Linked DNA regions of Homo sapiens. The protein of the gene in region 3 interacts with the protein of the main gene of each other region in a pairwise test. Each region holds a gene or a part of one and is shown on either strand. Other genes may lie near its edges. The genes, in order: PKIA, DUSP23 and MRNIP.

The links.
Region 1: the proteins of MRNIP (region 3) and PKIA interact in binary tests that used the Homo sapiens proteins (3 or more experiments, as listed by UniProt).
Region 2: the proteins of MRNIP (region 3) and DUSP23 interact in binary tests that used the Homo sapiens proteins (3 or more experiments, as listed by UniProt).

What each region holds. Positions count from the first base shown.
Region 1 is NC_000008.11:78,517,843-78,528,908, forward strand, and holds part of PKIA (cAMP-dependent protein kinase inhibitor alpha), read left to right. Parts: intron 1-11,066. UniProt on the Homo sapiens protein: Extremely potent competitive inhibitor of cAMP-dependent protein kinase activity, this protein interacts with the catalytic subunit of the enzyme after the cAMP-induced dissociation of its regulatory chains.
Region 2 is NC_000001.11:159,774,810-159,785,712, reverse strand, and holds DUSP23 (dual specificity protein phosphatase 23), read right to left. Parts: upstream 4,752-10,903; 5' UTR 4,613-4,751; coding exon 4,346-4,612; intron 3,561-4,345; coding exon 3,375-3,560; 3' UTR 3,170-3,374; downstream 1-3,169. UniProt on the Homo sapiens protein: Protein phosphatase that mediates dephosphorylation of proteins phosphorylated on Tyr and Ser/Thr residues. In vitro, it can dephosphorylate p44-ERK1 (MAPK3) but not p54 SAPK-beta (MAPK10) in vitro. Able to enhance activation of JNK and p38 (MAPK14).
Region 3 is NC_000005.10:179,848,475-179,859,540, forward strand, and holds the start of MRNIP (MRN complex-interacting protein), read right to left. Parts: upstream 10,344-11,066; 5' UTR 10,323-10,343; coding exon 10,257-10,322; intron 4,964-10,256; coding exon 4,904-4,963; intron 1-4,903. UniProt on the Homo sapiens protein: Plays a role in the cellular response to DNA damage and the maintenance of genome stability through its association with the MRN damage-sensing complex.

The DNA.
Region 1 (11,066 bases), on a different chromosome or scaffold from region 3:
GATTGTGGGGTATCTGTGTGCCAATGTTCTATTTAAAGGAAGATCTGTTATCTTTAAACTTAAAATTACAGAGACTGTCTGACTCAACAGCCATGCAATTTTATTTTAGTAAATTAAATTAGAAGATCAATGAAAAAGAGGGGCAGAGTTGGTAGCTTAAAATTTTACCTCTTTCTTTCCTCTTCAAATATTATTTTTAAGCAAAGACACTAGTATGGAAAATCGTGTTAATCATATTATATATCATTATTGCCTTTCTATTACAAATTTCGTTTTTACAAAATGCACTTTAGAAAGATTTGAATTTGTTTCTTTGTCTCCATCTTCAGTATATGAGGCATAGGGTGAGGGTGTAGGGGGTGGGCAAAGCCCACTACTGAGTGATCCACTCCAGGAACTGCCCCTTGGGGTCTTAATAACCTTATGTTCCTTTTTTGTTGTTGTTATTATGTGTTAAACAGGGTTTTGGTTTGAAATATTAACTTCTTGAGATTCTAGAATTTTTACTCAGTCACATTAACTATGAGGTAACAAAGAACAAGATCAACAACAAACCCTGTATTCTACCACCTTTTTTCTACTATTAAAATACTTAACCATATACATCATTATTCTGAATAATACTAATATAGAATAATAATGAATTTTAATATAGTTATTCTAAATAACCTAAGGTATATGAAATACAGATTAGTACAATTGATCTTAGAAATACAATGCAGTTTCTGTAATGTTGACAGTCACCTTTCTGTTGAAGAGCAAGTGCGTGAGAATATCCTAATGATGGTTAGAAATTCGAAGTGTCTATCATTTAGTTTCTGAAGAAACTAAACTCTTTGGCAAGAAATAGGTTCAGGATTAGGAGACTGGTGCTGCCTAAGGTGGAATAATACTTGCTAGTGATTTTGCAGGTGAGTTGAACCCACTAAGTTATGGACTGGAGTTGGAGAAATCTTGTTGAGAAGAAAGAAAACAAGTTAGAAAATTTAATTTTCATTTTAGTACAACTGAGGAAGATAATCAAACTGAAGGGATTCCTGAATTTGGACTTTGTTGTGTTTAAACAAGTTTGAGGAAAGTTTCTAAATTTAGAAGGCTAAGCAGAAATATATGTATGATTTTATGTCTGAAACTGATTTATGACTTTATATCCTTTCCTTAAAATGTTTCCTAGGGAGAGGAAAAACTAATTGGCTGGTGTTCAGAATTGAAAGAGGAATGAAAAATGGAAGGACGTGCATGATTAGATGCTAAATGATTAGATACTAAATGAACTGCAGGCACTTTTGTGTTTGACAAGATAGAACTGAAGTCAGTCTACTGCTCTCCAATTGTGTAAAAAAAAAAAAAAAAGTTTTGTCTGCTAGACAGTGTTACCAGATATTTAGAGAGTAAAAATTTAGGAGTTAAAGTTGCCCTCTTCTAACAAAATATCTTTTTCTGGTGCTGCATTACTGCCATTAACTACAATTGAAATAGCCTTAAGATTTGAGGCTGAGGCAGGAGGATTGCTTGAGCCCAGGAGTCTGAGGCTGCAGTGAGCCATGATGGCACCACTGTACTTCAACCAGGGCAACAGAATGAAACCCTGTCTCAAATTAAAAAATAAAAACTTTTTTAAAAGTTCAGAAATGTTGAAATGGAAAAGGAAAAAGAATAGCAATAATAAGGCTCAAATAGAAATGTCATTTCTATTCAACCAGTGACTCCACTGAGAATGGGTAGAAAAAAGTGCTATTTTGAAAGTTGCCAATGACCTCTTAATTGCCAGATTTCTATAATATTTCACCCTGTTCATTTTATAAGTCCTCTTCTATGTTATTCTTGGATTCAATATTTGTGTTTAAAAGGTAATATTAAGTACTATGTATCAGGCACTGTGATATCTCTTAATCTAATTTGTCACTAATTCCCTTAAAGTACCCCATGCCCAACCTAAACCAAGTGGATCTTCTTTCCAATTTGTACCCCATGGTGGCATGCCTATGTGTTTTCATTTATTCTGTTAGCCCATCCTCTTACATGTCGAAACCTTGTTCACCTCAGATACTGACTCACTTATGAAGCCTTCCCCATACCCATCTTCCTTCCCCAACCAGATGTGCCCCTCTCTTGTTTAAATTCCCATAGCACATTCTATTTTGGGTTATCCTTTCATGTGAACATGCTTTGTCTGCTCTTCTAAAAAAAACTCTTGAAAGCAGGGTCTGGGAATAAGTTTTTATTACCTGCAACTCTATGGTGTCTAGCTACATATATGTATTATAGGTGTTCAGCAATTTGATTTTAGTGAAGAAATAAGTTATTTTCCAGAGTTATAAATCTATCTACCTACACTCCTCTACCAGCCAAGTTAAGTTCTCAATATATGTGCAAATGCTAATTTGGTTTTTTAAAAATCATTATAGTAATAATAAATATACTGAGAGTACATTCAAATCATTATAATCTACAAAAGGTATTATGAGCTTAAATGTCCTTAAATGGATACTAAAAGCATGGTGAGCATAGCAAAACCAATCTTTAATGAAGACATTGTACCTGCTTTCAGTATTATTGCATTGAAGGCACCTTATGCATATGAGCATTTATCTTGTTTCAAGCCACTCATCTAGGGACTTTCATCTTTGGTATCTCATTTGATGTTTATACTATATGTGAATTTTACACTAAGAAAACTGAGGCTCAGAGATGTCACCTGAATGGCAGAGATTTTTTCCATATTACCACCCGCTCTTTGAAGTGTAACAGAGTGAGGGAAAACATTGTAAAAACATAAAGTCAGAGCCATCAGAATAGTTTCAAGTTGTTTTGTGATTAATCTTTCCAGTGCTTTTTAAACTTTTAGGTTAACATCTCAAACTTTTGATAACTCAGTAAAGTCTGTACATCTTCTCCCCAAGTACATACAGAAGCATACACATATTAATTTTGCATACAAATGCAGGTGTTTGTGGATTCACTAAAGCTCTCTTTACAGAATAGTTAAAGAACATCTATTTGTGCTCCCTTGGACAATATGTGTGTCCTTTATTAGCCCTTACATTTCCAGTACTTGAGATGAGGTTTTCCTTCTGTTTTTCTCCTTACTTTAAGACCTGAAATGAGAGCCCTTCACCAACACTGACATGAAGACAGCTGATGACTAGGAAGCAAGTGCTAGTGAAAATAGTGACTCAAAGAACCTTGATTCACAAAAAAGGCATGGAAAGGGAGCTCCGAACGTTACACATTCCAAATGACTTATTTAAGGTTTTCCAATCAAAGCCATTTTTACAAAAAAGAAACTGTTCTCAGACTTAAGAGTATTGTACTACCACATATGTGGGAAAACATTGCCAGCAGTTGATTGGTGTAGTTTACTTTGGAATATATTCAGTTCTCTTAGGATGGACTTATTAACTGTCTCAATATTAATATTTCTTTATGGTAATGCCATCTTCAGTAATATATTTGCTTTTGCCAAGTTAAGGAAAGAATGATAATTTATGTTCATCCCTCCTAGGTTCTAAAACAAGTGCCATCCTGAAAGAGCTGCATATCATTTTAGATTCATAAAAATGCATTCAGATTCTCAGCTGATACTTAAAGGGACTGGTACTAGCAAGCACGGTTCCTGATGTATTTAAAGAGCGTTCAAAGAGGTGTGACAAGAACAACATTAGTCTGGAAAAAAAAACAGAGATGGAAAGATAGAAAACTCAAAAGGACAACTTAAGCTGTTACCTTCTTTACATTTCCCAAATACCTTTTTTTGTACCAAAATAAGATTATAACTATATAAGTGTCTAAAATAAGTAAAATGTTATGAAAACTTTATAATGTGCTCCATATCAGGTAAGTTTATATTTTATAGATTTTATAATTAAAATTTTTTTTCTGGTAAAATATACGTAACATTTACTATTTTAGCTATTTTTAACTGTATAATTAACAATGTTGGGCAACTATCACCACTATCAGTTTTCAGAACTGTCTCATTATCACAAACAGAAACTCTATACACATTAAACAATAACCGTTCATTTCCTCAGCCCCTGGTAAACACTATTCTACTCTCTGTGCCTATGAATTTGCATATTCTAGGTACCTCATAAGTGGAATCACTTATGGAATGTTCTGGAACCCTTTCATACATATTTGTCCTTTTGTCTCTAGCTTCTTTCACTTAGTATAAATGTTTTCAAAGTTCATCCATATTTCAGCATGTATCAAAATTTCATTCCCTTTTAAGGCTGAATACTATTTCATTGTATGTATATAACACATATGGTAATTTTGAATTGCAAAACACTTTCAGTACATTGTCTATTACATTAAACATGGCTAGCATATAACACCACCATATTATCTTCCATAGATGTCAAGTAATATACACTATGAAGGTGCCATAATTTATTTGGTCAAAACCCATTGAAAAACATTTACTTAATTCCAAATTGTTTTGTGACTTCAAGTTATGTGGTAATAAACAGAGTATATTAATCCATATGTCTTTATATGTCAGTACTTTTACTTTTGATCAAAGAATGCTTGGAGTGGAATTATTGGGTCAGAGATTATGCCCAGATATTTATAGTTTGAGTACTCTAGATACTGTAGTTTATAGACTATAAAAATCCTAACATTCTGTAACAGATAGTATTACTGAATGTTCTGGAACCCTTTCATACTATCTTAAAAATGAATACAGATACTATAAGGAAATCAACTGAACATGATCCGAGCAAAGAAATATTCTCTCTTTTTTCATTTCCAGTTCATGGAGGAAAAATGCTATACACAAGTATTGAGAGAGAAAGTCTCTCAATCATGCATTTTTTTATCATAGATGACAAAGTGCATCATAGATGTCAGTTAAGTCTTGTAATAACAATGTGGAATAGTAGAAACATCTCTAGCTAGTTTTTAGGGTTTTTGTTTGTTTGTTTGCACCAGCAATAGGTTATTTGCATCAAACCTAATCTAAAATTTGGTCTGTTTGTTCAGATTTATGTACCTACATTATGGTAAATCTTTTATTTTTTTTTCTTAGTTTCTCTTTAATGTATTATTTTTAGTTTATTCTGAAATAGAATAATAAAGCCCAGTGATAACAGTGTCTTATTGAAGCTAAACTACAAAATATTTGGCGTATGTGAAGTATAAACAGAATTGGCAAGACTTTTAACCATCCTCCTCAGCAGAAGACAGTCTCTATTGCATCGGCCAGGAGAGGAGAAACAGAAGGCTTGCTGGAGATTGCATTAGTTTTTACTTAAACATTAAAATGCTAAAAGGACAAAGATGAAGCAACATGTCTTATAATATATGTTTGAGTATCTACTTAAAACTAAAGGGTTGCTAGAACATTTATTTAGTTGGACAGACACACTCCACAGTGTAGCTGACCCTAGACATGTCACAACTGCATTTTAAAGTATGCTTTTTCTTCAGTTGATTGGGGTGGGGGGAATTATTAATAAACATTTCTCCTATGGTTTACCTCTATCTTTATGGTTGTTTGATTAAACCCTCTTTGAAAAGCAGACGTAAAACAAATCAGCATTCTTATCTTTGTCTGAATAAGCAACACCATGGCCATACCTTCTTAATGCACTGCTGTGGTTATGAGACCAAAGGGTAGAAGCAGCAGTTTTTTGGTCATTGCAATAGTCACAGCAACACAACCTGCTACATTCCTCACTTATATACTGCAGAATCTGACCAAATAAACACAGAAAAGTCAGTAATACCTTTAATGCAATTCTTGCACAACTCTCCATGATCTTTCATACACAGCTTCTCTGATAATTGAAATGTAGAGGAAAATAACCTGAATGTTAAGACCCCTTTTCCATTTCCAAAATGTAATTTTGCTGGGACTTGCAGAAATAACATTGAATCTGAAATTAGTGGGCATCCAATGGAGTCACTAGAAATAATCTGTCAAAATCACTCAAATACAAATTTAGATTTAAAGACCAGGAAATTCTAAAGAGTAACTATGGTAATATATTAACAATTTAGGAAAGGAACATTATACATATATATTTATATAAATATTTATACATATTTATATTTATACATATATATTTATATATATATAAATATATATAAACATTTATATTTATATATAAATATATAAACATTTATATTTATAAATATATATAAACATTTATATATAAATATATATAAACGTTTATATAAACGTTTATATATATAAATATATATAAACATTTATATTTATATATAAATATAAATAAACATTTATATTTATATATAAATATATGTATAAACATTTATATTTATATATAAACATTTATATTTATATATAAATATATGTATAAACATTTATATTTATATATAAACATTTATATTTATATATATATAAACATTTATATTTATATATAAATATATATGTTTTTATATATATGGGTTTCTACTTATAAGGTATAATCACTGGAGAATAATGGATTTTTAGAAATGATTCATTCTGAAAAGACTATTTTACCACTTTTTTAAACTAGTGCCATCAAAAATAAATTGTGACAAGTCACTGTCATCCAAGTTAGTCTCTCACGTGGCTCTCAAGGAAGTGAGTAGTTCTTGGGGAAATGGCTTTCTTCAAATTTGTGCTTTCCTGCAGTGAGTCAAGCTGAGATAAAATGGGGCTGATGTTCTTAACTATTTGTTACATGCCCATATTTATTAGAATTACCTAATAATCAGTAAAAAAGAGTTTTATGATAACTAAAAATGTACCTATTGAGACTCTCCATTGATAAAAGTTGGCTAAGATACAGCTGGTGATCCTGTAGAAATCTAAATTACATTTTTTTCATCTTCTCCATATTAGAGAATAACTCAGGATTTCAAAGCAAAGCATGAAAAAGTAGCATTTGATATATTTTATCAATGTTAAGATTTCTGGGGAGCTTATCAGCATCATATACTAAGCATTCAATAAACGTAAATTGTTATTTCATAAGTAAAATATCAACAGCATAAAAATTTCTGTAACTCAAATGGCCAGTATGGTACATGGCTTTAATACAGGAGATTACAAAACATTAGTTGAACAACAAAATGAACTAATACCATTTATTTCTGAAAGCTACCCCCCAATACAAAATGATTGGTATTCTACACAAGCTCATTGTGATTGCTTTAGTATATGTGGTAGGAGTAAATTATGGATAGAACTACCCTCTTCCCTGGTTCTTTTAAAACCATACTTTCTTCCCTCTGGGGTATTATAAGTTGGAAATTAGAGGTGAATCATATTTTAGTCTGGAATTTATCTAGTAAGCAGTTCAAGACACTTAACCATGCACCATCTGTTTACCCAGGGCAGGAAAACATGACATTCCCCTTTTCAACTATAGCAGATGGGGACTTTTAGAAAACTCAGAATGCAAGATAGAGATTATAATGATGGAGTATTAGTCAGCACTTCTTTTGTCTGCATCTCTTTTTCAATCTCATTGATTGTAAAGAACACAATCAGAGATAAAGTACAGTTACTGTCAATTGAAAATGTTTTCAACCTGCATATAGGTGTGAGATAGTGGGCCTGTCACATCTTCACGAGATATGTTGGAATGACTATTTCACCACAAAATTCAAACGTGACACTAAAATTATCTGACACTAAACAGTCCATTAAATAAGAGGATGAATGTTGGCATCTTGCTCATCTATTTAGAAAAGAAAAATCACTAACAGTTTTAGGCAATACTTAAATGTTTAAATTTTTTCTAATAAAATGGAAAATGAAATAAAATGGCATTACGGTGTTATGAAAGCAAAGCAATTAGGTTAATCTCAAAATGTCTGACTGTAAAGTTGTAACAATTTTATTCTTAGAGCTCTCAGGCAGCTTTTAATCATTTTCAAGTTCAATCAAAAAGCTCTAACCATTATCATGAATATATTCTGATCACTGGGCTTTCCTCCTCCCTTTTGCTATTTATTTTTAATTTATTTATTTGGGGACATTTTGGCTACCACTTATGTCTAGATCATGTTTTTCAGGAAATGAATGTGGGCTTTGAATCATACCTTTACCATTTACTAGCTGTGTGATTTATACGTTACTCAACCTCTGTGAGTTGTTTCCTGATATTTAAAACAGGAAAATCACCGAGTTGTGGTGAAGATGAAAGAAGATAACATAAAGGAGAACTCAGTGAAGTGTCTGAAATATACATGGTAAAGGTTAATGTTTTCCATTTTTATCATTTTTATTTCCACTGACAATTTACACAGCCAGACCTCATTACTACATCTTTTCCCAAATGTTCATGAATTATTTTTTCTACCCCTCCCCATGTAAGTTAAACTTAGCCTTGAAATGACCCTGAATCTCACTGGAAAATGTCTTAATGCAGACACTGCCAGTGTCAGGAGAGGTTGGGTCCACTGTAATGCGAGGTTGTTAGGCTCTGATCAGCAGTGGCTGTGGGAATTAAACCTAGCTTCTATATTTAACTCTTCAAGTAGTTGATTGGATCACCTGGCAAAAGTCAATTGGCTAGCAATCCTTCACCTTATTTTCTTTGAATTGTACCACATGTCTAATCACTCGTTTCACTGGCTCATTATCAGAAATGATATTACGGGCATTAAATAAGGGTGCTTATTTCAGAAGCAAAGTGCCATATAAAATAGGAATGTCAAAAGTCTTTGAAGATCCTATTTGGCTAACTCAAATAGTTGTTGTTTCCAATATGCAACTATTGGAGAAGTTTCATATTATTAAGTTGTCCAAAAACAAAAATTAAACTAACTCCATTGTAGGTCATACTTTTGTTGGTCTGTGATACATTTCTATTTTATTGAAGCCCGAAGAATTTACAGAGACCGTGCAAGCATTATTATTCAGGGACTTGTTTATTATTAGGTGCTACTGATTAGATGTGATGAATAGCAAAACTGTTAAACAAAATAAAAAAAAAAAATAGAGCCTCACTTACTGTGGAATCTTTACTAGGAGAAACACCAGCCTATAAAAGTTGCATTTTTAATGACATATTTACATTAGTATGATGACAATTTTTGTTGGGCTTGAAAAGCACACAATTTTACATTTTATTTTTCTTATATGGATTTCTGTTATTGATATGGGCCATTTGGGTTTTAAAAAACAAGTACAAAAACTGTGTAGGACCTTATATTTAATATGTAAATCACATTTATTTACAGGGGAGAATTTTGTGGTGAGCAAGAACTGCAGCCAAATTTGTGATAATTTATTGCAGTTGGTAGAGTCTCTTCATGTATTCCTGGGAACAGAATAACTTCACTCTTTCACGTAAAAAGTATAAATCATCAGTGTAAGTTTGTCTTAAATTTCCAAGCCAATATTGTTAATCCCTATTTAAATACTGAACTGATTGGCTGTTTACCAAAGGCTTGAGGGGTAAATTTGGGGCATAGTCTGAATTAAGATGAGATGTTGGAAACAATGAAAATACCTGCTTTAAACATGTATGTACATACAAGTATACACATATATTACACATATTTTATGTATATTATAAACTATAATTATGTATATGTGTATCTATGTATGTATTCATTAATATTTTCTTCCTATTTCAAATATTTGATTCCTTGAAAGTTGGATTTCATTTAAAATAAAGAGACAAGTGCTTGGAAAAGCATGTGAAAAATCTTTGTTTCCAGAGCCAAGTTTAACAAGGAAAACTTATTTTTTCACTGGCAGTTTGTTTTTCAAAGTTATGAGAATATGTTTAAGATTTTAAAGTGATTTATTTAATAAATGAGTATGAATATGAATTTACCTATTTCAGATTGCTTTATATGTCATATTAATTTTTAAGTATATATTTATCTGTTTAAGCTTTTCTGAACTAGATCTTACCAGGTTATAACTACTGTCCAATTATATAAGAACAACAATATAGTTGCCTTTCAGCTTGAAAAATGCACCTGTTTCATTTTGTTATTTTTTTAACCCATAAGTTATTTGGCCTTCCATCAGCTTTTCTGTCTTGAGGAATACATTGTCCTATGCATAATAAATTATTTTGTACATCTATGTTTCATGCCATAATTTTTTAGTGTCTCACAAAGTTCTAACTTGGAAGGTACTCTTTTAAATCAAGTTTTTCAGAATATAGACTTGTTCTTTGTGAATTGTCAGATCTGTTTTTTAGGTATTTCTCCCATTTTGGAGAATGAGTAGAGAAAACTGTACCATGGGACATTTCAGTTCTTTTTCTATACTTACTGCTAATAACATGCCTTCTCTTAGTAAAGCTAGAAAGCTGAGAACTGCAGTTAAATAGCCCCAAGGTAGGACATAGGCGAAAAATACTAAAATTTGTTCAAGTACAGTAAGAGAACCAAATTTGGTCTGGCATTTAATTTAGTCTTCCTCACTACCCTAACCCAAGTAGTATACTAGTAACTAGACTTTTAAAAAACAGCCATTTGTTGATTAATGGTGCCTATTTTTGTTTCTGCTTCATTTTAACTTTGTTTCATAACACTATTATACAGAGGCTTATTTTAACAAATGCCATTAGTTGGATCATTGAGTTTTTCTTCCGCTTTATAACTGATTAGCTCTACAGTTCAAAAATGCTTAAAGGCCAGACCTGTCAATTAGAAGATATAAGCACAATAGAAGTGATGTTTCTAAAATTAACTCTGGAATACATCTCTCTTAATGTTAAATACATATAATCTGGGACTGGGTGCAGTGGTTCATGCCAGTAATCTCAGTGATTCAGGAGGCTGAGGCAGGAGGGTCATTAAGGCCACAAGTTCAAGACCAGCCTGGCCAACATAGTGAGACCCTGTCTCTAAAAAAAAAAAAAAAAAAAATTACAAGTCCAGGCATGGTGGCTCATGCCTGTAATCTCAGCACTTTGGGTGGCCAAGGTGGGGGGATCACCTGAGGCCAAGAGTTAGAGAACAGCTGGTACTGTAGCGAGACCTCGTCTATAAAAAAAAAAAATTCCTTCTGGATCATTTCTAGAACACAAATATTTGTGACATTTCTTTAGTGTTTTCATTTTTATTAAGTGTTATATACTCATATTTCATATAAACTT
Region 2 (10,903 bases), on a different chromosome or scaffold from region 3:
GCCAGAGGAAGAGCAGTGATGAGCCTCCTGTGGACAGGAGCCCCAGGTGTTATGAATGGGTCAGGATGTAAGGGTGATGACCAAGTATGGCTCCAAGGGAGGTGTGTGCCAGCCTCAGTGTATGCAGTGTATGCAGGAAATAGGCCTCAGTGGCCTATTTCCCCACTCCAGTCCTCTCTAGAGCAGGACACCTATGTTGGGATACATGGCTTATGAAGCAGTCATGGAATCCAGAACCCAGAGAGCAAAAGGGCCCCAGTCAGGGAAGGATGAGGAGGAATCTTCTCAGAGAAGGTGCTTGTTAAGGTTAAGGTTTAAGGCTGGTGCTCCTTCTGACTTGCTTCCAGTTGTTTCTGCAACTGGATAATTTTCTGAAAGGGGAACCCAAGAGGTGACTACTGCAGAGCCCCAATGATATGAAGGAATGTTTTCCAGATAGAGAAGCCTCCGTTCACCAGAGAACTCTGATCACGTACCAGAGAATAAACATGAATTAAACGTAAAAAAAAATGGGGGTGGGAGTAGATGTTACTGCAGCTGTGCCCATCAGCAGCTCATTGAGAATCAAAGTCTCCTGAATATGGAAAGTTAGCGGTGTCTATCACTGTCTTGGGAAACCAGCCAGGAAAAAGGCTGACGGACCAGGGATGGCTACCAGACATTGCTTGAAAAGGTAGGAGGTTTGAGTTGGTCCTTTCTGTCCCATTAAGATGTGTGCATCCACAGGAGACATTACCAAGTATGTTCCCACCTCCACTCCCAGAGGAAATGAAAGCCAATGACTGCATCCAGTGCTTGTTGGTCTCATGCAGTTCTCAGCTGAGGCTGATTTTGCTCCCCCAGGGAACATTTGGCAATGTCTAGAGACATTTTTGTTGTCACAACTGGGGGGAGGAGGGGTATCCTACTGGCATCTAGTGAATAGAGGCCGGGCAAACTGCTAAAGATCCAACAATGCACAGACAGCCCCAACAACAAAGAATCACCCACTTTCAAACGCCAATCGTTGAGATATCCTGGTTTGAGGCGAATGTTCTTTTTAGATGGTGGCACAGATCATCTATCTCAGCGTAGAAAGGGAAGGGACATGGCTCGTCTGTTACCCCTTATTGGTAGCCATAGACATAAGAGGGCTTGGTGAGAAGACAAAAACAACTGGGAGTGGAAACGAGCCCAAAGGAAGCCACAGGCTAACCCACCAGGTAGATGGAAGGATAAGGGCAGAGTTTTTCATTTCAAGCCAACTCTTATTATTTAAAAAGCAGTTTCCTTAAGCACTTAATTATACGTGTATTTCCCTAAGGAACTCTTGAGGCAGAGGAGACTTGCTTAAATTATGGGGATGGAGGCAGTACACAGGGCTTTAATGGGGTTAGCAAAATTTTGTTTCCCTTGCAGGAGCCTTGGGAGGAAGGGAAGGGCATATTCCTCTTCCACAGTGCAGAGATGTGGGGAGGATGGAGTGACACAGGAACAGAGGCAGAAAGGGCAAGGATTGGTTGTATGGCCTAGCAGGTGAGGATCAGAGTGGAGACACGAACTTGGGGAAGCTTCATGCCTCACACCTCTCTCTCTCTCTCTCCATCCTGGTAAGCCCTCCGACTGGAGGGGAGAGGTTCAGGAAGTGGCCCATTCACACCCTTCATGCCCTACTCCCTTCACATGAAAATACACACACACCCCTTTGGAAGATGTTCTGGTTTGCATCAGAAACAGAATGGGGCCATACTATTGGGGGAGGGGTGGATGGGGGAGAGCAGGGTAGACAGAACTTTTGGTGACAGGAGGGTAAGGGTTTCAGTGCATCCTCTATTTGCATTCTCATTCCTCTGTTGCAGCTGGAATGCCTGGAATGTGTGGGTTTCTTCTCTTTGGGAGACATCCTCACTTGAGTAGGCTAGGTGGAGACTAAGCTTGAAGGAACTGATCACTCAGATTTGACAAATAAAGTTAAACTGGGGAGAGGGCATCTTATGGCCTTAGATTGGCAAGACTTCAGCTGATATCTCTTGTTTAAGGTTGAGTTGGACAGGGATGAACTGGGTGGTTAGTGGTGGAAGGGGGAAAGCAGCAGAAAGGAGGACCAGTTGGCTAGGCCTGTCTCTGGTCTATGATACAAAAGATGAGATCTACAGGGGAACCCTTGACTCCCCACTCTTCTATGTCTCCACTGGAACTGGAATGCATGTCTACAATAGCATCCATTGTCTGTGGTGGACTCTATCTGTGCCCATCTTCTCCAGCAGGCTGAGCTCCTGAGAGCAGGAATTATGTCTCATTCCACTGTGCGGCCTCCAGATCTAACAGAACTCATACAGGTACGTACAGGAACTCACATATTTTATGGTGAATTTCTATCTTATTCAGCCTGCTATTGCAGAAAAGACCACAGGCAGACCTACAGTAAAGAGTCCATTGGGCGGATATATGCCATTCTTCCCATTTCTCATAAGTCAAAAGTGTAGTGGTGCTGGCAAAACAGGGCCCAACAAGGGGGCAGAATGGGGTCCAATAGGGGATAACTGGAGATAACATCTGAGAAACATGGCCAAGATTTAGAGCCCTGGAACTCTTCATTTAATTGTTAAATATCTGCTCTGCATAACTGCCTAGATTGGCTCTGTTCTCAGGTCCTTTGGCCTGAGGTTGTGGGGCAGCAGAATGAGCCAGAGAGCCCAGATGAGCTGAGCAGCACCTGAGGTTGGTAAGAGGTGACCAGCCCTGTGGAGGTGGAGATGGTGGTTATCTGTGAGTGTGACATCCAGGCTGTCTCTACCCCCAGATAAACAAGGGTGACACGTGTGCAGCAGGTGGGCCTACACGGAGGGGCCTCCTGGCCTGTGAGCATCAGAGACCTGGGAATGCCAGGAGGCCAGGCTATTCTGGACCTGAATCCTTTTCATTGACTAGCTCCCCCAGAAAACACATCAAATATTGTCAGGGAACAGATACATAGCATTTCAGCATCTTCAAGGGATTGAAGACGTGTGTTGCTGTTCTGGCCCATCCTTCCACTTTCTAGAAGTGTTGAAGATGGGCCTCTCTGAGCTTTGCCCACCTCATCCAAAGAACAGAGATGGCCCATCTGTCTTTCCTGTATCACAGGGCTACAGTGAGGCTGAAGTAAGTTAATGTGTGGGAATGCTTTATAAAGTACCATGCAACGTGCCCTGGTTCGTAAAACTCATTTATTCAACAAAGCAGTACAAGCCTCCCCTTCAATCAGGACCTGCCTGCAGGGGTGGGCTACTTCAGTGTCTTCAGCCAATGGGAGCTAGAGGGTTTAATACTTTAGTCCACTTCCCTTCATCTCTGGCCCCATCGACAACATGGGGAAGGGGAGTGAGGGCCTGGTAGAAGGGTACTAAGGCCCCTTATTTCGTTCGCTGGTAGAACTGGAAGACTGCTTTCTCCTGCTCATAGGTCTCGATGGAGCCGGGTCGTAGTCGTCGGATTTCAGCAATGGCATCTCCTGCAGCCAAGCCCCGCTCCTTCACCAGGTAACAGGCCAGCATGGTGCCAGTGCGGCCAAAGCCCAGAGCACAGTGCACTCCCACAGCCTACGAAGAGGGGGCTCGATGGGTGCCACTCAACTCCCCCACCCACAACTGTTTCCTGCCCCTCACTTGGTTCTCCCCACAGCTCCTTCTTCTGTGCCAGGTCCAGGGCTCTGCAGCAAAGTCAGGGAGGGCTGTCCCTGCACTAGGTGGCTAGGAGGCCTCTGCACTGGCTGGTTCAAGAGCTGTCCACCTCTACACAGCCCTCCACCTGTGGTGTTCAATACAGAAGACAGTAGCCACGGCTACTGTGGCTACTGTACTCGAAATGTGGCTAGTCCAAACTGAGATGTAGTGTGAAAAACGCAACAGGGTATGAAGAGGTAGTAGAAAAAAGAATGAAAATATCTCATTAAGATCACCAAAGTTAATTTTATCTGCTTCCCTGCTTTTTAAGAATGCCGTTGCTAGAAAAATTAACATTACATGGAGCCACTTAGGTTCCATTATATTTGGACAGCTTTACTCTAGAAAATGGTAAACAGCCTCCACCTGACTTCAACCCCCACCTCTCCCAGGTGTCTGTCCACACCCTTCTCCTTCACAACTCACAGTATTAGCTGGTTTTCACTGCCTCTCCTCAAGCCCAGTTCGCACTGCTTCGCCCTCTCTTTAGTTCCTTCCGTTTAGCGCTTCCCTCCCCCGCACTGGCTTCCCAGTCTCCCGGCCCTACTGTCTGCCTCCCCGAGCCCAGTTAAGTTATCCCAGGCCCGGTCTCCCCAGCTCCGCCCGTGTCCCCCGCTGACCTTCCAGGCCCCTCCCTCCCTGCGCTGACCCCGCCCGCTGACCTCTCCCCGTGCGTTGGCCTCGTCCACGATCTGCACGAAGCGGTCGATCTGGTCGGGGGCCGGCGGGCAGAAGTCGGGGATGCGCAGGCGGTGCAGGGTGAGGCCGGGGCAGCTGTCGCTGTGAGGGGGCCCGCGCTCCGTCAGGGACACCAGGTGCCGCACGCCCAGGTCCAACAGGAACTGGTAGTGGGCGGGGAGCCGCGGCAGCGCCAGTCCCGCCAGCCGGCCCGGAAGCACCCAGGAGAAGTTGGGGGGCTGCACGCCCATCGCTGGGAAAGGGCACAGGACAGCGGGTCATGGGGGCCGAGGCTGGCCAGCCCCGCTCCGCCCACGCGTCCCCTCGCCCGCTCCGAGCCAAGTAACTCACCACCTACCTGGCCTCGGCGCCTCCCGGGCCACGTGGTCTGCAGGGCGCCGCCCTCGGGTCGCTCTGCCCAGCCGCGGGGATTGGCCCAGAACCTGGGGCGGGGCTGGAACGCGGAACCCAGTCTCTGAGCGACCGAGGGAAGCGCCGCGATCCCGCCCCGTCCGAGCAGATCACGCGGTGATTGGCTGGATCATCATAATGGGCGGGGGGTTACTTCCACGGGGTTCAACCCACTCAGCTAAGAAGGAAGACCTGGAGCGAGTTAGGAATTGTTTGCTGCGGATGGAACAACCCGGGGTCGGGCTCTGCTGCACCCTGGCGGCATGTTGCAGTCATTGCGTCACTGGCGCCTGCCCCTGCCTCCTCGCGGGCCGGCCTAGTTCTACCTCCTTCACGCTGGATGCCCTGGGGTTTAAGAGATGACAAATCGGCTTTCTCCCAGGACGAGGAGTCTCCTCTCTAATGATTGACTGGTCGTTATCAGCGACTTTTTGAACTGTTCCAGTAAGAGGGAATTACTGCTGCAAGGAGGCTATTCTCATTTTTTCATTGCTGGAACTATTAAAAACTTACCCAGGGTAATAATTATAGTAATAATAATAACCAGCACCAACTTCTCCTGTCAATCCAGTTGCTCCTCAGGACTTATTGAGCATTTATTATGTGCTAGATAGTCTTCTAAGCACTTAGCACATACTGACTCATTTAATTGCCACAGTAATCTTATAAGATAGGTGATCTAGTGAATCCCATTTTATGGATGAAAAAACAGAGGCACTGGAGAGGTTAATAAACTTGACCAAAGGATGATGACTAATGCCTCCAAAATCTTTAATAATATCGCCATTTCCTAAAGTTAAATGGAACATTGTTTTCTCTTCACATAACCCCCTCATGTCCCCAAATATTATCTGGGTTAAACGCTTGTGGGTTTTCTTAATTTTTATTAGTATTTCATATTTCTTCATTTTTCAAGGTTTCCTAGTTCTCTGGGTCACTGTCCCCTGGGCAGGCTAGAGTTGATTAGTGTTGTTCTTACTAGGTGGGGGCCCCTAGATCTGAACACCGTTTCCACTGTCATCTGACCAGTCCATATCCTCATTTGAATAATGTGCTTCTAGCGATGCAGACTAACTGTAATTATGAAAATAGTTAACCCTTATTGAATTTGTTTATGTACCAGGCCCTGTGCCAAGCGCTTTCTGGAAGAACCACATGTGAAAGGTATTTTTGTATCTTTTTTTGTACATGAATCATTGGAAGCTTAAAGAAGTTGGTTAACTTGGCCAAGGACACAGTGATCCAAGCCCAGGGCACTTGGCCATGAGGATGTATTATATTTCCTTCCCTTTGCACCCACCTATGACACACGTCTGACCATTTAAGCCTTTGGCTTCAGCAAGATGGAAAGCAATTTGTCTTCTCCTAAAGATCAAAGCCTGCTCTGACCCTGTGGGAAATACACTTACCATTTACCCAGACAATTACTTTCCCCAGGTTCCAGGAGGTGCCAAATCTCCCCTTTTTCTCCTTCCAGACAATCACAGCCCTCATTAAGCCCTTCCTGTTTGCACTCTCATTTCCTACATAAATTCCTATCAAGGTTACCAGCCCTCCCCAGTTTATTCCTTTCTCTCTTTCCCAGCCATGGCCTCTCAGCCACCAGTCACCTCTTCCCCCAACCCCCTGACCTCCCACTTCTCTTCTCAATTCAACTGCTCTTCAGGATTTCTGGTTGCACTACCTCTGGAGACAAGACTCTAGCATTTGTTCTTGTAAGTTAATCTTTTCTTAGTCCCTTTGCCTTGTTCTCCTTTCTTTGCTTCCCCTACTCACCAGGGAAGTTTCCACTTCACTCCCTACCCTCCTATGTGCTCCTTCTTTGCCTCCTTGATATCCAGCTCGAAGCCCATATTCTCCAGAAAGAGAAAATTTTTTTGGGAGACCGAGATCTTCCTCTTCCCTGAGTCCCCTACCAATGATTCTCTCCCTCTTGTGGGTTTCTGCAGGGCTAGCAGTGCATCCATCAAACCATTAGGGCCTCCATGTGGAGAGGCCAGTTGGCTCCCTTTTTAGGAAGCTCTGCCCTTCCCTTCCAGCAGACCCAGAGTGGAAAGGGCCCAGGGTCCCTGCCTTAAGCTTTGTCAAGGGTGCCATATGTCAAGGGTGCCATATGATGTTTTGTCTTGGGCCCAAGGGGCCTCAAACTGTAAGGAAAAACCCTCTCTGATGGTTTCCTGGCTCAGACTTCTGCAATTAACAGGACTTCTGCAACTAACCACCTTCTTGTCTGCCCACATACATGATACTGACCTTCTTTTATTCTCTCCTCTGTACAGAGTTACCTGACCCTCAGGAAGATTTAGGCTTTTTTTTTTTCTCCCATCTCACCTTGTATAAATATGTCTTCTCAGTATAGTAATGTCATTGGATTGAGGATACTTGTTTGCAGAGGAGGCAAGAATGCGTTGTTCCGTTTTTGAATTCCACACATCTAATATGGAGCCTGAGCCACAGGGCTCAAAATGTTAAGTAAACAAATGAATGGGAAATTAATAAGAAGAATGCATTGGCAAGACCGTGAAGGTACATTTCTAGGAGTGAATGTGAGTCTGTCGGACCATGTGGCAATGTGTATTTGTAATTCTTTTTAAATGCACAAGTTTGAGGACTGTGTTGAGTATTGGGTAGTATCTCTTTGAAGTGTATTTTTTACTTGACTGTGCTTTTAAATAAAGAATGGCTGTGTCAGTATGATCTTGGCTATGTCTAATTACTATTTTTGTGAAATGGGACAAATAAAGCTTGTTCTTTATAGAGCACTGCTCTTGTAGTGTGCATGTGTGTGATGGCTTGTGTATTTGAGTGCTTTGGAGGGGCCGTGTTCCTGGAGAACAATCTATTGACACTGATGGTGGGCTGAGTAGTAAGCTTAAGAAATTTCCCTGACTTCAAGGAATTTACAACATCCTTGCGGGGGATTTAGACTCTGATGTAATTATTCTCAGGACATATAATAAAGTACTAAATTGCTCATCAAAGACAATCAGATAATACATATTAAAAAGCTAATTGTGCAGTAAAAACAAGTGCAAAAGAAGTCAGTGGGGGAAAGATAAGCTTGAATTGGAACTACCAGAAATGTCTTATGAAGAGAGGGATTTTTCTTTCCATTTTGTCTACTGTCCAATGAAAAGCTCAGCAGACCCAGCAATCCCATTACTGGGTATATACCCAAAGGAATACAAGTCATTCTTTTATAAAGATACATGCACCATATGCTTATTGCAGCACATTCGCAATAGCAAAGACATGGAATCAACCTAAATGTCCATCAGTGATAAAGAAAATGTGGTACATATACACCATGGAATATGATACAGCCATAAAAAGCAATGAGATCATTCCCTTGCAGGGACATGGATGGAACTGGAAGCCATTATTCTCAGCAAACTAACACAGGAACAGAAAACCAAACACTGCATATTCTTACTTACAAGTGGGAGCTGAATGATGAGAACACATGGACACATGGGGATGGGGAACAACAAATGCTGGGGCCTGTCTGGGGTGGGGACTTGGGGAGGGAGAACATCAGGAAGAATAGCTAATGGATGCTGGGCTTAAAACCTAGGTGATGGGATGATCTGTGCAGCAAACCACCATGGCACACTTTTACGTATGTAACAAACCTGCACATTCTTCACATGTACCCCTGAACTTAAAAGTAAAAAATAAGGCTTAACAGAACATTTTTTAGGGCATCTCAGCTTCCCTTTTTCCAGCTGATAAGAATGTTTTGACTTAGTTCTTGTTCATATTGAGGCCCCAGTCCCCTGTTTGGCTTGATGCTAGTGGCAATTAGGGGTGCAATTGGAGTCAGAGAATTTCTTCCTCCAGGTAGGTCCCTGTGTTCCACCAATGCAAAGGATTGCTTGGGTTCAGGTTCCTGTGGCCCTTGGACTACAGTCAGAATTCTCAGTGTCCTCAGTGTTCTGATTTTTTAATGTCTAAACACACTTCACACCTAAGATCTGATAATCTGGAAACTGAACCTAAGAAGAAATGGTATGGCAGCTAGCTTCCAAGATGGTACCCAATGAGCCATTTCATGCCTGTGTAGTGCTTTTCCACATTGATAGGGCTGATTTTTGCAACCAGTAAGATATTGTGTAACTGGTGGTGTGTGACTTCCTAGGCTGCATCATGAAATACTTAATTTTTGCCTTGTTCTGTCTTGGAAAGAAGGCCTGCCATGGGAAGCTTTGGGAAGAAGCCAGCTGCCATGTTGTGAGAACTCTCAAGCAGCTGTGTGGAGAGATCCATGTGGTGAGGAACTGAAGCCTCCTACCCACCATCAAGTCAGTGGCTCACTACTGTTGCAGTGAATTCTCCAGCCCATGAAGACTTTAGATGATTTACCCAACATCTTGATTATAGCCTCATGGATTCCCTGAGCCAGAACAACCCAGCTAAGCCTCTCCTGAATTCCTTACCTACAGAAACTGTGAGATAATAAATATTTATTCTTTTAAGCCATCAAATTTTGGGTAATTTATTATGCAGTAATATGTAACTAATATAGATAAAAATATTCAGTTTGAAGGAAAGAAGAAAAATAACTTACAATAAACTCAAGAAATAAAATAAAATTAAAACAAAGGTTAATTCAAAAAGAAAGAATTATACTGTAAGCAGTTGTGGTCTAAGTGTGTGTATGCAGGAATGTTGTGATAGATCAATGCAAATTTTCCATATTTGGAGAACCATGCTGTCTGTGGGGGAACCAACCAGAGTAGTCTGGGCATGAGTTTTGTGTGTGTGTGGTGTTGGAGGTATAGGTTGCTGTGGTATTTGTATGGTTAGAGATGATATACAAATTATTTAATGATTGGTCATGGCACAAGAAACAAGCAATTAAAATGGAACCTCTACCAGAACCATTACCTGCAAACAAACAGTGAAGCTACCCTGGTGTCAGTTGGATGTGTGTCAGCTTTGGGTGTAGAGGCGCTGAAATGGTCTGGGGTGTGGTCAGATTACCTTGGACATTTTAATATAGGTCTTTCCACAAGATGGCACTGATAGCTTTTCCTTGTTTCTCTTTTTTTTGTCTTGTTGAAAAATTTGTGATTCGTATACTGTTGCAGAACATACCATAACTGAAATCTCCCAATTTACTAGTTGATTTCTTGTACTTTTGACAAGTCAATTGCCTTTATGGCATTTAAAATTATGGTGTTTTTTTCTTTTTTTTTAGATCATCCCAGGAGCACATTAAAAGTTTAAGTTGGGGTGTTGGGAATGCTGCCTCACATCAGATGCTATCATCATGGGAGCTGGAGATGGGGAGGGAGGTGGGGACTAGGCTTTGGTTTTTGAAAAGCCATTCAACAAAGGCAGGTGAGAGTGGAATCAAGAGGGAGCATTCAGTTAGGGAAGAGGCACTTCTGTGATCAAAACCATGTTGGTGGACTCTCTCACTTCTTCTGTTTACGCTGCCTCGAGCCTCAGCTGAGCCATAGCCTGGCTGGCACTTTGATATCAGCCTGAGGAGACCCTGAGCTTAGGTTCAGCTAACCTGTGGCCAACTTCTGACCTACAGAACTGACATCATAAATGGTGTTTCTTTAGCCATTATGTTTGTGGCAATTTGTTATGCAGCAATAGAAAACCAATATAGTTGCCTTTATTTACTTTATTTTCTTATCTTTAATATGCTCATCACAGCACTAAACCTTTGGAGTTTCTAAACTGGTGTATTGCTTTTTTTCTTTCCCCTTTGTTTTAAGTTTTTCGGTCTCTAAAACTATAGGCCGCATAGGTTCATTTTCCAGTGTAGATGCAACAAATATGATGAACCAATGGAACTCACAAACTGTCAGCATCTGGTTTCGTTTTGGCACCTTCTAAACTCCTGGCTGCTCCCTCCACCACCTTTAGACCAGTGCTTCTCAAGGTGTGATCCACAGTTGATGTCACATGGGAGCCTGTGATAGATGCGGAATCTCAGGCCCCCCGACCTGTGAGATCCTCAGGTGGCTCATAAGCACACCTATGACTAAGAAGCCCTGGTGTAAGACTTGTTTGTCCTGCAGCTCTGTTTTTCCTTTGGTCATCGGCAGCATCCAGAAAGTGGTCTGGTCACAGAGGTAGTGAGTTGATCTCCAGGTGTCTCTTCTCTGGAGCTG
Region 3 (11,066 bases):
ACATTTTTTCCCACTTACCAGTCACAAATTCATCCAACAAATATTTATTGAATACCAACTGTGTGCCAGGCCTCATCTTGGGGTAGACAATACAGGAATGGACAAGACTCCCTGTCATCATGGAACTCACATTCAAGTGAGAAGAGACAGGAAAGAAACAAGTGAGCCATATAACCTATCAGATGCTAGTAAGTGCTCCTGAGAAAGACAAGGCCAGGAAAGAGGTCGTACATAAGAGCATACCGTTTTACATAAGGTGTTCAAAATGGTCAAGAAATGCATCTCTAAGAAGGTAACGTTTGAGCACAAACAGGAAGATATGAAGAAGCAACCCACATGGCTGTCTAGGGGAAGAACATTCCAGCAGAAGCAATACATGAGAATGAGTGTGAAGACCCTGAGCCTGAAATTTTGGAGGAACAGCAAAGAGGCCAGCATCGCTGGAGCTGAGGGGTCTAAGGGGAAGACGGTACGAGACGGAATTTGAGAGCATGGGTCCTGCTATGGCACAGGCAGATGGTACAAGACGGAATTTGAGACCATGGGTCCTGCTATGGCACAGGCAGATGGTACAAGATGGAATTTGAGAGTACGGGTCCTGCTATGGCACAGGCAGATGGTACGAGACGGAATTTGAGACCATGGGTCCTGCTATGGCACAGGCAGATGGTACAAGACGGAATTTGAGAGTACGGGTCCTGCTATGGCACAGGCAGATGGTACGAGACGGAATTTGAGACCATGGGTCCTGCTATGGCACAGGCAGATGGTACAAGATGGAATTTGAGAGTACGGGTCCTGCTATGGCACAGGCAGATGGTACGAGATGGAATTTGAGACCATGGGTCCTGCTATGGCACAGGCAGATGGTAAGAGATGGAATTTGTGACCATGGATCCTGCAATGACACAGGCAGATGGTAAGAGATGGAATTTGTGACCATGGGTCCTGCTATGGCACAGGCAGATGGTACGAGACGGAATTTGAGAGCATGGATCCTGCAATGACACAGGCAGATGGTAAGAGATGGAATTTGTGACCATGGGTCCTGCTATGGCACAGGCAGATGGTAAGAGATGGAATTTGTGACCATGGGTCCTGCTATGGCACAGGCAGATGCTACGAGACGGAATTTGAGAGCATGGATCCTGCAATGACACAGGCAGATGGTAAGAGATGGAATTTGTGACCATGGGTCCTGCTATGGCACAGGCAGATGGTAAGAAACAGAATTTGAGACCATGGGTCCTGCTATGGCACAGGCAGATGCTACGAGACGGAATTTGAGAGCATGGATCCTGCAATGACACAGGCAGATGGTAAGAGATGGAATTTGAGACCATGGGTCGTGCTATGGCACAGGCAGATGGTACGAGACGGAATTTGAGAGTACGGGTCCCGCTATGGCACAGGCAGATGGTACGAGACGGAATTTGAGGGCTCGGGTCCCGCTATCGCACAGGCAGATGGTACGGGATGGAATTTGAGAGTACGGGTCCCGCTATGGCACAGGTAGATGGTACGAGACGGAATTTGAGGGCTCAGGTCCCGCTATCGCACAGGCAGATGGTACGAGACGGGATTTGAGACCACGGGTCCTGCTATGGCACAGGCAGATGGTACGAGATGGAATTTGAGAGCATGAGTCCTGCTATGGCACAGGCAGATGTTAAGAGCCTGAATTTGAGATCCTGGGTCCTGCTATGGCACAGGCAGATGGTACAAGACGGAATTTGAGAGGATGCGTCCTGCTATGGCACAGGCAGATGGTACGAGATGGAATTTGAGAGCATGCGTCCTGCTATGGCACAGGCAGAATCAGCTTCAGGGTGTGACAGCCGCTCTGCTGTCGCCATCTTGAAATTCTTAACAGTCTGGCCTTTGAACCTGTGTTTTTTAAGTGAAGTGTGCTGGGACAATGGAGCACATCTGTGATCAGACACACACACTATACGTGTCCAGTGTTCCTCAACACCCCACTGGCAGGAGCATTCTTGATGTCCCGTGAGCACAGAATTCTGGTGGACTCCCAGTGCCTGGCAGCTAGTAAGTCAAGTGAGAACTGAGAACCAACCGTTGTTTTTAGCAACACAGAGACCACTGCTGACGCTGACAGAAGCAATTGTAATGGACACGTAGGGAGTGCAGTCCTGTTTGGAGCACATTCGCCTGAGAACGGAGAAGAGTAGCTGGAGGGGGAAATGGCAAAGACCAGGCTGGCATAACCAGTAGCGGTGTGCTCTTCCATAGGGCAGGGACTGCTGGATGGATACTGAAGCGCATTCTTCCCGAAAACTAGATGTCATTTTCCAGTGTGCGTGTGGTCAGGGGTGGCCACGAAACCAGCCTCTTTCCATGGCACTGTCACTTGCTTCCCAGCCTGGCCCTCAAAGCCTCTCGGTAGCTCCTCCAAGCACCTGCCCTTCTCAGTGGCTAGAAGCACAGTGGCTAGAAGCAGCTACAGATGAGCCTCAGGGAATAGAAGCAGCTCAAGATGGCAGGAGCTTGGATCCCTGAGCAACCACATCAAGGGCAGCGCCCTGCTGACCTTATCATCTTCCCAGGACTGTTATGAGAGCAAGAGAAACGTCTATTGTATTAAGCCACCACAATTTTGGTGTGTTTGTTACTGTGGCCTAGTCAGCCATACACCACATACCACACACAGCACAGAGGCATTGAGGGGAGTAAGAAGGCTTCCTCAAGGAGAATGTAGAAATATATACATCTCAAACAAGCCATGCTCACCATGTGGGGTGTCTGCCTACCTGGTAAGCCAGCCCCTCTCTTCTGAGACCCAATCCCAGTTGACTGGACCAGAGGTGGGCATCCGAGTCAGCCTGGGCCAACCAGGTTGCTTCTCCTAGGAATTTATAATTGAGACTCAGCTCTTCCAGTTGGCTTGGAATGAGATTCTATGGACTTGGAGCAGAGAATCTGACTGAACAGTCTGGGGAGAAACAGAAAGGGAAGGAGAGGAGAAAATAGAGTAAAGATATAGGGAGAAGCTGGGTGATGGGCAGGAAAAGCTGATGTCTGGCTTGTTGGCAGCTTTTCAGTTCTTGGGGCTAGTTTTTCAAGGGACCGGGGATGAAGTTCTGCCCTTGGATTCCCTAAGAGATCTCATTACCTTGCCAGCACTTTATTTATTTATTTATTTATTTTTTAACTTTGCTGAACCCATTCTGAAGTGTTTTTTTTCCCTTTTTTAAAAAAAATATCAGCCAGGCACGGTGGCTCACGCCTGTAACCCCAGCACTTTGGGAGGCCAAGGTGGGCAGATCACGAGGTCAGGAGATTGACACCATCCTGGCTAACATGGTGAAACCCCATCTCTACTAAAAATACAAAATATTAGCCGGGCGTGGTGGTGGGAGCCTGTGGTCCCAGCTACTCAGGAGGCTGAGGCAGGAGAATGGCGTAAACCCAGGGGGCGGAGCTTGCAGTGAGCGAGATCGCACCACTGCACTCCAGCCTGAGTGACAGAGCGAGACTCCGTCTAAAAAAAAATAAAAAAATAAAAAATATCAGGTGAAGGCACTCACCAACATTATGAAATGTTTTTGTCTACGGAGGCAGGTGGATCATTTGAGGTCAGGAGTTCAAGACCAGCCTGGCCAACATGGTGAAACCCCGTCTCTATTAAACATACAAAAAACAAATTAGCTGGGTGTGGTGGCATGCATCTGTAGTCCCAGATACTCAGGAGGCTGAGGCAGGAAAACTGCTTAAACCCGGGAGGCGAAGGTTGCAGTGAGCCGAGATTGCGCCACTGCACTCCAGCCTGCATGACAGAGAGAGACTCCATGTCAAAAAAAAAAAAAACCCCAAAAAACAGCAATTTAACTTTTAGGACTTTGTCCTAAGTAAACAGTAAACAGCTGGTCACGTGGATAAAGAGGTTTTTGTGAAAAGCTTCACGGTAGAGTTGTGCATAACAGTCAAAAGGGAAATCAACCTAAATGCCCAACAAGGTTGGGCCAGTTCCTTACTCACTCCACAAACACCGAGCACTGTGCTAGGTGCTGCGGATACACCAGCAAATAAAAAGCCTCTGTTCTCACGGAACTTACAGCCTTAGATGGACAATCCGTGCATAAACACATGACTATGTAACTTCCATAGGATACTGAGAAGAGGGAGGGGAACTCCACAGTGAGCACAAAGGCCTGAAGAGGGAGCAAATTTGGGTTTAAGGTCAGAAAGAAAGCACATGGCTGTAGAAGGAGAGGAAAGATGAGAGGTGAAGGGAGAGGTGGCACTGGGGCTGGAGCAGGAAAAGAGCAAGTTCAGTAAGGCAAAGGATGCAGGACAGTTTGGGGTCCTAGAGTTCAGGAGGGGCAATACGGATGGACTGAAAAGACGTACTGAATGCCAGCTGCAAACAGCTGGATGAGAGCATTTACAGCCTGCCCCTGCCTGCCTCCACTTCCTGAGCCCACTATCCCACACCTCCACCTCCACCAACGGCCTCTGCCCTTCCCCGGCTGCCCTGATTCCTCTGTCATCTTCTCACAGTCCCCAGTGCTTTCCTTTCCTTGTGCTCAGCCGAGTTTTAAATTATGCAGATGCATGTGTGCATTAGTTTCTCTTCCCCTTCCACACAAGTGCATCTGTGAGGGCAAGAATGACAATGGGCTTACTTTCCACTGTTCCCCTTGTGCTTGGCACACAGAAAGTACTCAAGAAATACTTGCTGAATGAAGAATCAAATGGCAGTACCTTTCCAGATTCTGCTCCATCCATTTCACTTCCTGAAGGAACAGGAAGCTCGGAAGCAGGAGCTCCGTGTCTGGGGAACTCTGTTTGAGAGAGGATGATCCCAGCTGTGGCATGCTGGGACTCCCTGGAAGGGCTCGCTGCAGGCCTGCGCCCCACTTGCTTTCTGTTTTGTAGGACTCACCTGCAAAAAGGACTGCTTCTCTCCACAAGCTTTGCATGTCCACTTGACACTCTTTTTTACCTGCAATGAAATTTCAGAAATACAACTCAGATAATTATTTAAAACAAAATGGAATTGGGCTGGACTCGGTGGCTCATGCCTGTAATCCCCCTTTGGGAGGCCGAGGCGGGCAGATCACAAGGTCAGGAGTTCGAGACCAGCCTGACCAATATGGTGAAACCCAGTCTCTACTAAAAATACAAAAATTAGCCAGGCATGGTGGCGGGCACCTGTAATCCCAGCTACTCAGGAGGCTGAGACAGGAGAATCGCTTAAACCTGGGAGGTGGAGGTTGCAGTGAGCCAAGATTGCACCACTGCACTCCAGCCTACACGACAGGGTGAGACTCCATCTCAAAAAAACAAACAAACAAACAAAAAACAAATGGAATTGGATCTGAAATTTTTTTTTTTTAAATCCCAAGTAGCTGGGATTACAGGTGTGTACCACCACGCCCAGCTAATTTTTGTATTTTAGTAGAGATGGGGTTTCACCATGTTGACCAGGCTGTTCTCAAACTCCTGACCTCAAGTGATCCACCTGCCTTGGCCTCCCACAGTGCTGGGATTACAGGTGTGAGCCACCATGCCTGGCCTGAAATAATTTTTTTTTTTTTTTTTTTGAGACAGAGTCTGGCTCTGCTGCCCAGGCTGGAGTGCAGCGGCGCAATCTCGGCTCACTGCAAGCTCCCCCTCCCGGGTTCACGCCATTCTCCTGTGTCAGCCTCCCGAGTAGCTGGGACTACAGGTGCCCGCCACCACGCCTGGCTAATTTTTTGTATTTTTAGTAGAGACGGGGTTTCACCGTGTTGGCCAGGATGGTCTCGATCTCCTGACCTGGTGATCCACCCGCCTCGGCCTCCCAAAGTGCTGGGATTACAGGCGTGAGCCACCAGGGCTGGATCTGGCCTGAAATAATTTTAAAAACTGATGGAAGGAGTCCAGAAACAAACCAAAGCATGTGTAAACATTTAGCGTATCATAATCATAAAGGTGGTACTTTAAAAGTGAGAAAAGAACAGACTATTTAACAAGTCCGGGTTGGTGCTGGGAAAACTGGCTATCTGTATGAAACACAATCAAATTGGGCTGGGCACAGTGGCTTGAGCCTGTAGTCTCAGCGACGAGGGAGGCCAAGACTACTCGAGCCCAGGAGTTTGAGGCCAGCCCGGGTAGCATGGCAAGAGGCTGTCTCACAAAACCAAATCCAAACAAAACAAAACCACTCTGAAAGACCCAAATTGAAGCTGTAAAAAAAAATTCCATAATATTCCTGTCTCGCAAAACCAAATCCAAACAAAACAAAAACACTCCGTAAGACTCAAATTGAAGCTGTAAAAAAAATTCCATAATATTTAAATTCTTGTTAAACTTGGGTCTAAAAAAAATTCCGTAACATTTATTTTCAATTCTTGTTAAACCTGACTAGATGTGTTCTCTCTTAACATATAAAATGCCTAAAACCCACTCTAATGCTGGAGAATCTTTACCAGCATTCCACATGGAAGTCAAGAACAAGCCAGGGTTGCCCGCTATTATTTACCATTTTTTTCTGGATGTACTAGCCAATGGAATTAGAAGAAAGTTGTAAGATGTATAAAAATTATAAAGGAGCGGAAAACCCTATCATTATTTATAGACATAATTATAATACCTGAAATAACTCCTGACCTCAAATGATCTGCAGACCTCGGCCTCCCAAAGAAAAGCCAATTTTTTAATTTTAATTTTAATTTTAATTTTTTTGAGACGGAGTTTCGCTCTTATTGCCCAGGCTGGAGTGCAATGGTGAGATCTCGGCTTAGTGCAACCTCCACCTCCCAGGTTCAAGAGATTCTCCTGCCTCAGTCTCCCAAGTAGCTGGGATTACAGGCACGTGCCACCACGCCCGGCTAACTTTGTGGTTTTAGCAGAGACAGGGTTTCATCATGTTGGTCAGGCTGGTCTCGAACTCCTGACCTCAAGTGACCCACCCAAAGTGCTGGGATTAAAGGCATGAACCACCAGCCCGGCTGCTACCTGACATAATTTTTTATCCGAAAACCAACATAATGAAATGAGAAGCCACTAAAACCAGATAGTCTAATACAGTGGTTAGGTACAAAATTAAGATACCTTCAAAAATTAATATAGCTTTTATATGAGCAGACATCTAATTAGAACACATAATTGATAAAGAGTCCATTTATAACAGCAACAAATAAAATGTTACCAAGGGATACCAAGGTTACTTGAAGAAACGTAATGGATCATGTTTAACACCACAAAGATGTCTAGGTTGATCCATTAACATTAATACGATTAATATGATCCTAATACAAAATCATGAGGTTTTCGGGGGAAGTATCCAAAAGGATTCTAAGGAGGACAATGAGCACCTACCAAAAATTGAACTGGGTAATGACTTAGCAATTTTACTTCTCAGCTTCTACCTTAAAACACCAATAAAACTGTGGATTTTCTATGAGTATATAAACAAGTAAGAAAAGTTGTTTTTTTTTTTTTTTTTTTGAGACAGAGTCTGGCTCTGTTGCCCAGGCTGGAGCACTGTGGCGTGATCTCGGCTCACTGCAACCTCTGCCTCCTGGATTCAAGTGATTCTCCTGCCTCAGCCTCCCAAGTAGCTGCGATTACAGGTGCCCGCCACCACGACCTGTATTTTTTGTATTTTTAGTAGAGACGGGGTTTCACAACATTGCCCAGGCTGGTCTCGAACTCCTGACCTCATGATCTGCCCCCCTCGGCCTCCCAAAGTGCTGGGATTACAGGTGTGAGCCACCGCACCCGGCCAAGAAAAGCCTTTTTAAAAGTTTAGGACTCACAGAACCTGGTAAAGGAATTAATTGTGGGAACTGCTGAGATAGTATGGTTCTGCCACTCCCTAGATGGAGAAACCACTTGATTCCCGTGTATTTCGGAATTCTCATGTCTCTAAGATGGGAATGATGCCTAAGTCAAAGGTTGTTGAAGTTAAACGTGTTAAAGTAGTACACAGCCGACTTGCAATTAAAATTAAAGTAGTACATAGCCGACTTGCCGTCCTCTTTGGTTTCAAGTAATTTTTCTTTGTTTTTGAGACAGGGTCTGGCTGTCGCCCAGGCTGGAGTGCAGTGGTGTGAACACGGCTCACTGCAACCTCTACCTCCTGGACTGAAGCGATTCTCCTGCCTCAGCGACCCTGAGTAGCTAGGACTACAGATGCGCGCCACTACATCTAGCTATTTTATTTTGAATTTTAGTAGAGACAAGGTCTCGCTACGTTGCCCAGGCTGCTCTGGAACTTCTGAGCTCAAGTGATCTGCCCTAGTGGGCTTCCCAAAGTGCTGAGATTATGGGCGTGAGCCACCGGGGCCAAGCAACTCACATTTCATAAGGTTGAAAATGACCACGAGGGTCAGGGGCGCTGGCTCACACCCGTAGTCCCGGCACTTTGGGAGCTAAGGCGGGAAGAACACTTGAGCCCAGGAGTTCCAGACCAGCCTGGGCAACACGGCCGAAACCTCATTCCTACAAAAAATATAAAAATTAGCTGGGGATGGTGGCCCACACCTGTAGTACCAGCTACGTGGGAGGCTGAGGTGGATCAGCTGAGCCCGGGAGATGCAGGTTGCAGCGAGCTGTGATTGTTACCACTGCACTCCAATCTGGGCGACAAAGCGAGACCTTGTCTCAAAATAAATAAGTAAATAAATAAATAAATAACACTGGTGAACATGGAAGAGTGAAACAGGAAAACAAACAAGGAAATAGAGGCCGGGCGCAGTGGCTCACACCCGTAACACCAGCACTGTAATCCCAGCACTTTCGGAGGCCGAGGCGGGCAGATCACGAGGTCAAGAGATGGAGACCTTCCTGGTCAACATGGTGAAACCCCGTCTCTACTAAAAATACAAAAATTAACTGGGCTTGGTGGCGCGCGCCTGTAATCCAAGCTATTCGGGAGGCTGAAGCAGGAGAATCGCTTGAACCCAGGAGGCGGAGGTTGCAGTGAGCCGAGATCACGCTACTGCACTCCAGCCTGGCGACAGAGTGAGACGTGAGACTCTGTCTCAAAAACAAAAAAAGGAAATAAAAATAAACGGAAAATTTGTTTTTAAAAAACAGCATGAAACATTAGACGTGGAATAATTTAAAAATGCAAATGATCTCCCTTTATTTGCAACTCTTAGGACCCAGCTCCCGAAAGAAAATAAGTAAAAAGTTTCTGAGCCCTTAAAATGGCCCTTACAAACGCTTAGCATTAAATGCAAGCTTACAGACACATACTCAGCATCTTGCTGACTTTTTAACATACCTCTTAAACAAGTCTGATCCACGCCGGGCACAATGGCTCTCGCCTGTAATCCCAGCACTTTGGGAGGCCGAGGCAGGCGGGTCACCTGAGGTCAGGAGTTCGAGACCGGCCTGACCAACATGGAGAAACCCTGTCTCTATTAAAAACACAAAATTAGCTGGGCATGGTGGCGCATGCCTGTAATCCAGCTACTCGGGAGGCTGAGGCAGGAGAATTGCTTGAACCTGGGAGGCGGAGGTTGCGGTGAGCCGAGATCGCGCCATTGCACTCCAGCCTGGGCAACAAGAGCGAAACTCCGTCTCAAAAAAAAAAAAAAAAGAAGAAGAAGTCTGATGCTATTCTTTCTCAGGGCATAGCAGATTACCAATAATTAGGAGGGAGGGACTATCAGAAGCAGATACGGTGACTGCAGTGTTAAGTGATATCAAGCAGGGAGACAGGTGCGATCCGGAAAAGGTTAAGTGGCATTCTCTATCTGGCACGCTGAAAGTTAGGGAGGCAAATATGTCCTAGAAACACAGATTATCTGTCTTTAAGACTCCGGGGCCCGTGGTTTATGCGTCGGCGAACAGCCATATCAAGTCCCTGGCCCCGCGGAAACGGACGGCGGCAGAGGCGCGGGGCGACGGAGAGGGCGCCCAGGTGTGGAGCAGGGACGCCGCCGCGGCGCGCTCGGTCTCTAAGAACCGTCCTCCCCCTCTCACTGAAACTGCGACAGCGCTACTTCGTGGGGTAGGCTCTGCGTAAAGGATGCTATACTCAACCGGATTCTCCCACTACCTGCTACAATTCACAAGAGGCCACCTCCGCAGAACCATTACCTCTGGTTTGTACAAGAACCAAACAAAAAGCTCAGAACGTTATGCGGGGGCGACCCCAATGAGACCCGCCCTCAGCGGTCCCTGCACTCCTTCGGGCCCGGTGCATCCCGGAGCCATTCGAGACAACACCCACAGCCCCGCCACTCCCCGTCCGCTGTCCCCGCGCCGGAGGAGGAGGAGGGGGCTGGCACCCGCCAGACCTGGTGCGCCTGGAAGAGGCGGCAGCTGCAGCAGCGTAGCACCCGAGAACGCTGAAGCGACGCCATCCCTGCTTGTGCAGTCGCCAGGCAGCCAAGCGCGTGCGCTCTGCATTTGTCCCGCCGCGGCCCCGCCCCACGCACGCGCTCCGAACCCTCTAGTCCCCTACGCCGTCTCGCATGCGCTTATACTCTTCGCTCCGGCCGCCGCGGCCCCGCCCCTGCGCACTGGGATCCCTCTAGCCTGCCGCGCCTCTCGCTGGTCATCTGCGCCCCTCCGACCTCGGAAAGAGTCCTGGGTGCGGGATTCCTGGTAGCCGACTCGTCGTCTGACCAGGGCCGTGCCCGCATCTTCCTAAGGCACTGGTTCCGGCCCTGGGGAGACTGGAATTGAGACGACAGGGCCTCCGCTGACCAGTCCTTGGACACAACGCGGAGCGGGGCTGAGGGGCCGCCCTGCCAGGCCTGCGCTGCCGTGCTTTTAGGTAGCAGCGAACAGTTAGCCTTTGAACCGGAGCCCGGGGTGGAATACGGGGAGACGGAGGGGCTCACCACACCCACGCTTCCCGGAGAGGGCGGCGGAGGCGCGCGGCCGCCGAGCGCGAAGCCGGTCCCCCTGCAGCCCCGGGAGCGTCCCAGGCCCACCCTACGGAGGGTGGAGGCGCCCCCGCAGCCCGACGCTCACGCCGCAACCCTGTGTGGCTTAGGGTTGTAACCTCGTTGGAAAATAAAATACAAAAAATATTAAAATTACCTCCCACCGTACAACCCTCGGTGTCTAGGGTTGTAATTTTAATTTTTTTTCCAACTTTT